2 separate regions of the Homo sapiens genome follow, and region 2 is linked to region 1. The links come from fine-mapping of genetic effects on gene expression. Tissue or cell type: whole blood. Region 1 holds a variant in brackets; the other region holds the start of a gene. All regions are shown on one strand. Distances are between the middles of the regions.

Region 1 (2,752 bases):
CTGCCTGGGCTTGAGGAGGCCCTGGTCTCAGTGGAGCTGAGCACCAGCAGGCACGAGGGGGGTGGCTGCACTGTGGCATGCTGCGCACCCCTGGGTGCCATAGCCGGTCCCCTGTGTCCCCAGCACCGTGCTGCTGCTGAACCCAGTGGAAGTGCAGGCCGAGTTCCTTGCTGTAGCCAATAAGCTGAGTACGCCCGGACACTCGCCTCACAGTGCCTACACCACCCTGCTCCTGCACGCCTTCCAGGCCACCTTTGGGGCCCACTGTGACGTCCCGGGCCTGCACTGCAGGCTACAGGTATGTACCTGGGGCCTGGGGCTCTGGTGGAGCACCTCTCTGAGGAGGTAGCACCCTCTCCCTGCTTCATCTCAGCCACGGTCTCCAGGGTACACTTAGTCTCCTGCACCCAGGTGACATGGCAGGGTGGTGGCTGGAGGGCTGACCTCATAGAGGGTGTTTCTGGTGTGCTGGATCCTAACCAGCTGGGTGGCAGCCTGGGCAGTAGGACTGGGTGCTGATAACTGGTGCCTCAGAAGATGGCATATGCCATAAGAACGAGAATGAGCTTTGGGCTGAAGACCTGGCATCTAGGCCTGGCTCTGTCACAGGTGTCACAGGTCGGCTGTGTCACCCCACACAGCTCCTTCCCCTCTATGGGGTACAGTGAGGAGCGCTGAAGTCCCTCCTAACTGCAGTGCCGTGGCTCTGGATCTTTCTCTCCTGACCATTTCCTGAGAATGGAAGGGCAGGGAGAGGCCTGGCTGCCTGGCCAGCTGTGGGTAGGAGATGGGTGATGAGGCTGGGAGGGGACAGATCACTGCCTCCCTCAGTAAGAAGCTAGCAACTGGAACAGGTGGACAGCTAGCTCACGGTCCAGGAGCAAAGCCCATCTCCTCCTGGGGTTTCAGGCCAAGACCCTGGCAGAGCTTGAGGACATCTTCACGGAGACCGCAGAGGCACAGGAGCTGGCATCTGGCATCGGGGATGCTGCAGAGGCCCGGCGGTGGCTCAGGACCAAGCTGCAGGCGGTGGGAGAAAAAGCTGGCTTCCCTGGGGTGTTAGGTGAGGCTCTTGGGAGAATGGGGTTCTCCCACATTCCCCATGGCCTATTCTAGGTCCCAAGGTGCACGGTCCAGGCGGGCCTGGTGGCTCTGCTCCACACAG[T/G]CACTCAGGGACTCAGCTTCTTCAGCATCTCACTGCTCTGCCATCCCCTAGGGTGTCTCATTCCTGTCTATAGGGGCAGGGTGGGGGTGCTATCATGATGGCAGCTTGTGGGAAGAGGAAAAGAGAGTGCTTACGAGGGCAAAGGCTGGGCTTTTCTGTTGAAGGTGATGCAGAAGCTGGGCACATCACTTCCGCTCATGTTCCTTTGAGCCCGCCTTGGTCACGTGGCCACATCTTGCCCCAAAGGAGCCTGGGAAACATCGTCTCTATGACTCCAGTACCATAGAAGGGAGCACAGACTTTGAGGAACCATTAGCATTCCCTGTTACAATATTCCTCATAAAAACCTTCTGGGCTAGTACTATTATTCTCCCATGGGCACATTGTAAAATGAGGCTCAGAGGTTGTGGTTTGGCCACATTCGCACAGCTCATAAAGGGCATGCCATCTACATGGTGTGCTTGAAAGAAGGGCCTCTGGCTTGGAGCCTGGCACCCTGGCTGTAACTCAGCCTCAGCCTATCCAGCTACATATCCTTGTGCCGATCCTGTCCCATCTCTGGTCTCTTCTCCAAGGCAAGGGGACTGGACTGGCCAATCTCCAAGGCCTCTTCCCAGCCCTCTTCTCCTATCCTCCCTGTTCTTACAGACACTGCAAAACCAGGGAAGCTCCACACCATCCCCATCCCTGTCGCCAGGTGCTACACCTACAGCTGGAGCCAGGACAGCTTTGGTAAGGAGCCGGGGCCCTGGTGACACCCATGCCCCACACTGCCTGAGCTGTGTTTCTGGTCCTGGGTCCATGCAGCTCCCACCCCGTCCCCAAAGCTCTCCCACATGAGCAGGCTCTAAGCAGAGCAAGGGGGCAGTGCTAGGAGTCCTGGGCTGGCCCTGAGTCCTGCTGTCTCCCCTCCAAAGGGAATATAGAAGGGGATCCGGGGCCCAGACGCCCAGACAGTGCTGGCCTTGCTTCCCTGCAGACATCCTGCAGGAAATCCTGCTCAAGGAACAGGAGCTACTCCAGCCAGGGATCCTGGGAGATGATGAAGAGGAGGAAGAGGAGGAGGAGGAGGTGGAGGAGGACTTGGAAACTGACGGGCACTGTGCCGAGAGAGATTCCCTGCTCTCCACCAGCTCTTTGGCGTCCCATGACTCCACCTTGTCCCTTGCATCCTCCCAGGCCTCGGGGCCGGCCCTCTCGCGCCATCTGCTGACTTCCTTTGTCTCAGGCCTCTCTGATGGCATGGACAGCGGCTACGTGGAGGACAGCGAGGAGAGCTCCTCCGAGTGGCCTTGGAGGCGTGGCAGCCAGGAACGCCGAGGCCACCGCAGGCCTGGGCAGAAGTTCATCAGGATCTATAAACTCTTCAAGAGCACCAGCCAGCTGGTACTGCGGAGGGACTCTCGGAGCCTGGAGGGCAGCTCGGACACGGCCCTGCCCCTGAGGCGGGCAGGGAGCCTCTGCAGCCCCCTGGACGAACCAGTATCACCCCCTTCCCGGGCCCAGCGCTCCCGCTCCCTGCCCCAGCCCAAACTCGGTACCCAGCTGCCCAGCTGGCTTCTGGCCCCTGCTTCACGCCCCCAGCGC
Region 2 (2,625 bases), 76 kb before region 1:
CCATGACCTTGTGGCCGAGTTTGCACGCCTCTAACAGATATTATGACACAGTTCCATTCAATAGTGGAAGTGGAGATTTCAGCGTTGCCCTTTGTTAACCCACAAATGAAGTGCTACTCTTCCATTGTGAGGGCTGTCGGAGCAGTAGCCAACCTTCTTATCCCCATTTTTTAAACGAGGGAAAGGAGGCATAGGAAGCGCAGTGTCTTGTGGGATTCCCTGGGGAGTCCTTCCAACTCTTGGTAGAGCATCATCTGCAACGTCGTCTGGGGGAGAAAAGGGGGAGGCAAGAAGAGGGCCTTGACCCTGGAGGCAGGAACTCCCGCACACCCTCACTCCCTTCCCCAGGGGCTGGGGAAACCACTCAGGTGACAGTAGCCTTGGTGCCGGCCAGGGAGGGCGGGAAGTCCAGCCAGAGGCTGGAACAGCAGTGCTGAACGCCGGGACTGGCTGGTATTTCTATGAAGGTTCCTGCAGAAGGATGCGGGTCAAGGTGCCCGTCTGCACAGCAGTAGTGCAGGCATTTTAAGGGTTAAGGGCACCCAAAGAAAATAGAAGTAGGGGCCGGGCGCAGTGGCTCACGCCTGTAATCCCAGCACTTTGGGAAGCCGAGGCGGGCGGATCACGAGGTCAAGAGATCGAGACCATCCTGGCCAACATGGTGAAACCCCGTCTCTAGTAAAAATACAAAAAATTGGGCGTGGTGGCGCGCGCCTGTAGTCCCAGCTACCCGGGAGGCTGAGGCAGGAGAATCGCTTGAACCCGGGAGGCGGAGGTTGTGGGGAGTCAAGATCGTGCCACTGCACTCCAGCCTGGCGACAGAGCGAGACTCCATCTCAAAAAAAAAAAAAAAAAAAAGAAAGAAAATAGAAGTAGGAAGAGGAAGTGGGTCGCAGTGAGAGAAGGAAGCAGCTCGTCGGAGCTTCCTCTTTCTCGTCTTTCCCCTAAGCCCCTACCCCAGACCTGCCCCCCTGCTCCGCCCAGCCCTCCTGCGGGGCCAAAGCCGCGCTTCCGACGCGGGGGCCTAACCTCCCCTTACTCCTTGGGGGTCGCTGGTGCTCCGCGCTGGTGCCCCTCGGGCCACTGCCATGGACCGGCCAGGGTCTGCTTCTTCCGAGGGCTGGCGGGTCAGAGCCGGGGCTGCTTCTCAGACGCCTTGCGGCCTCGGGGGCGTGACCCAGAGGATGTGGGGCCGGGCGCGCACCTGGCTGACGCTGCCGGGCCGCCAGGTGGCTGGAGAGGCCGGCTCCGCGGTCAGCCCCGCCCCATTAGGCCCCGCCCCCTGACAGGCTCCGCCCCGCCCGCCGGAGGAGCCCAGGCTGGGCAGATGCTGCGGCTCGCCGCGCGGCTCCAGCTGGGGCGCGGTGGTCCCGACGGTCACCCGAATCGCAGGGAGTCGCCGCTGGAGAGGGGCTCGGCGCCCGGCGGGGACTGCAGGTGTGTGACTGGGCGGCCAGGGCGGATGCGGAGGGCACGCATGGGAGCTCCAGGCAGAGCTGGAGCAAGCTGGGGACCGTCGGGGAGAGTGGGCTCCGCGAGCAGCCGCCGCAGCCCGAGGGCTGGACAGATCCTGCTATCTTCCGGCCCCGTGGACCTGGCCCACCGCGGGGGCAGCGGGTCTGCAAACCTGCGCTCCAGATAACCCCAGAGACTTAAGGGGCGTCGCGGGGACCACTTATCGTTATCCGGGTAACCTCTGCTGGGCGGCTCTGCGCAGCTGTGTCCTCAGCCTCCTGCCTCTGACACAGGACGCCCTGTGTCGTAGGGTCAGGTCCCCTGCCCGCTCCAGCGGGGAACTGTCCGTGAGCGTGGGCATCAGGGCTCTTGTGCCGTCAGAACCTGGGAGTCATGGAAGTGCCCGCGTAAGGCGCCCTCCGTCGAGCCTCACTCAGCCTGCTAGTTAGCCAGCCTTGGGCCCAGACGCGGCTGCTGTCCTAGAGAACTGCACGCTTTCTGCTCTCAGAGGATCTGTGTTTACACACTGGACATCCCCGCGTGACTCGTGTGTGTGTGTGTGTGTGTGTGTGTGTGGGCATGCGCATGTGCGCGTGCTGGCCCATCCCGGCCTGGGGTAAATACACAAAAAGTTCAGGTCAGTAGGAGGAAGGAGATTGTTCAGAAGGAAAAGGAAGGCGAGGTTAAAGCAGCAGGATGTGGTATAAAGCGAGTTAACAAGACTCGGAGTAGAGAGGAGGGGTGGGTTTAGGCAGAATAAGGGCTAAAAGTAGGCCAAGCCTGCCTCCAAGGTCCTCTCTGGACTGACACCCTCGTTTTCCTTCTGTGTCTTCTCATCCACCCCACACTTTCCTTCCTGCCCTCAGGACCACCTGTAAGGCACTGGCTCCCAGAGCTGACTGCAGGTAGGGCTCTCTTGGAGCCAACCCTACAACGTGGCTTTCCAGGGATGGGATCTGGAATCTGTAGTTTTCAAAACTTTGAATGAGCTCCTTAAGTGATGATGCTGAAGCCGTTGCTTGGGAACCATGCATGATGTGGAAAAGAGACCCAAGTTCCAACCGGATCCAGCTGTGTGACCTGCAGCATCACACTGTCCCCCAACCCAGCCTCAGTCTCCTGATTCATAAAATGGGCTGTCATACTGACCCATAGAGCTGTGTGGAATTA

What was found. PIP is the estimated chance that this variant, and not a neighbour inherited with it, causes the effect.
Region 2: PIK3R5 starts here. The variant in region 1 is fine-mapped to the expression of PIK3R5 in whole blood (TOPMed, PIP above 0.99).

Annotation. Positions count from the first base shown.
Region 1 is chr17:8,888,284-8,891,035 of GRCh38, reverse strand. PIK3R5 (phosphoinositide-3-kinase regulatory subunit 5) reads left to right here. Exons shown (of 19, transcript NM_001142633.3): 7 at 124-298; 8 at 910-1,063; 9 at 1,814-1,897; 10 at 2,145-2,752. The region is part of intron 1 of LOC124903922 (a long non-coding RNA gene); the gene reads right to left. Among named protein-coding and RNA genes, the nearest start is that of PIK3R6, 22 kb to the right of the region's middle. RefSeq lists enhancers at 1,488-2,296, 2,297-2,752. The variant T/G (reference allele first, on the strand shown) is at 1,166.
Region 2 is chr17:8,964,408-8,967,032 of GRCh38, reverse strand. PIK3R5 (phosphoinositide-3-kinase regulatory subunit 5) reads left to right here and starts at 1,326. Exons shown (of 19, transcript NM_001142633.3): 1 at 1,326-1,437. PIK3R5-DT (PIK3R5 divergent transcript) reads right to left here and starts at 1,186. Exons shown (of 3, transcript NR_184080.1): 1 at 1,030-1,186; 2 at 1-266. RefSeq lists silencers at 913-1,012, 1,083-1,402.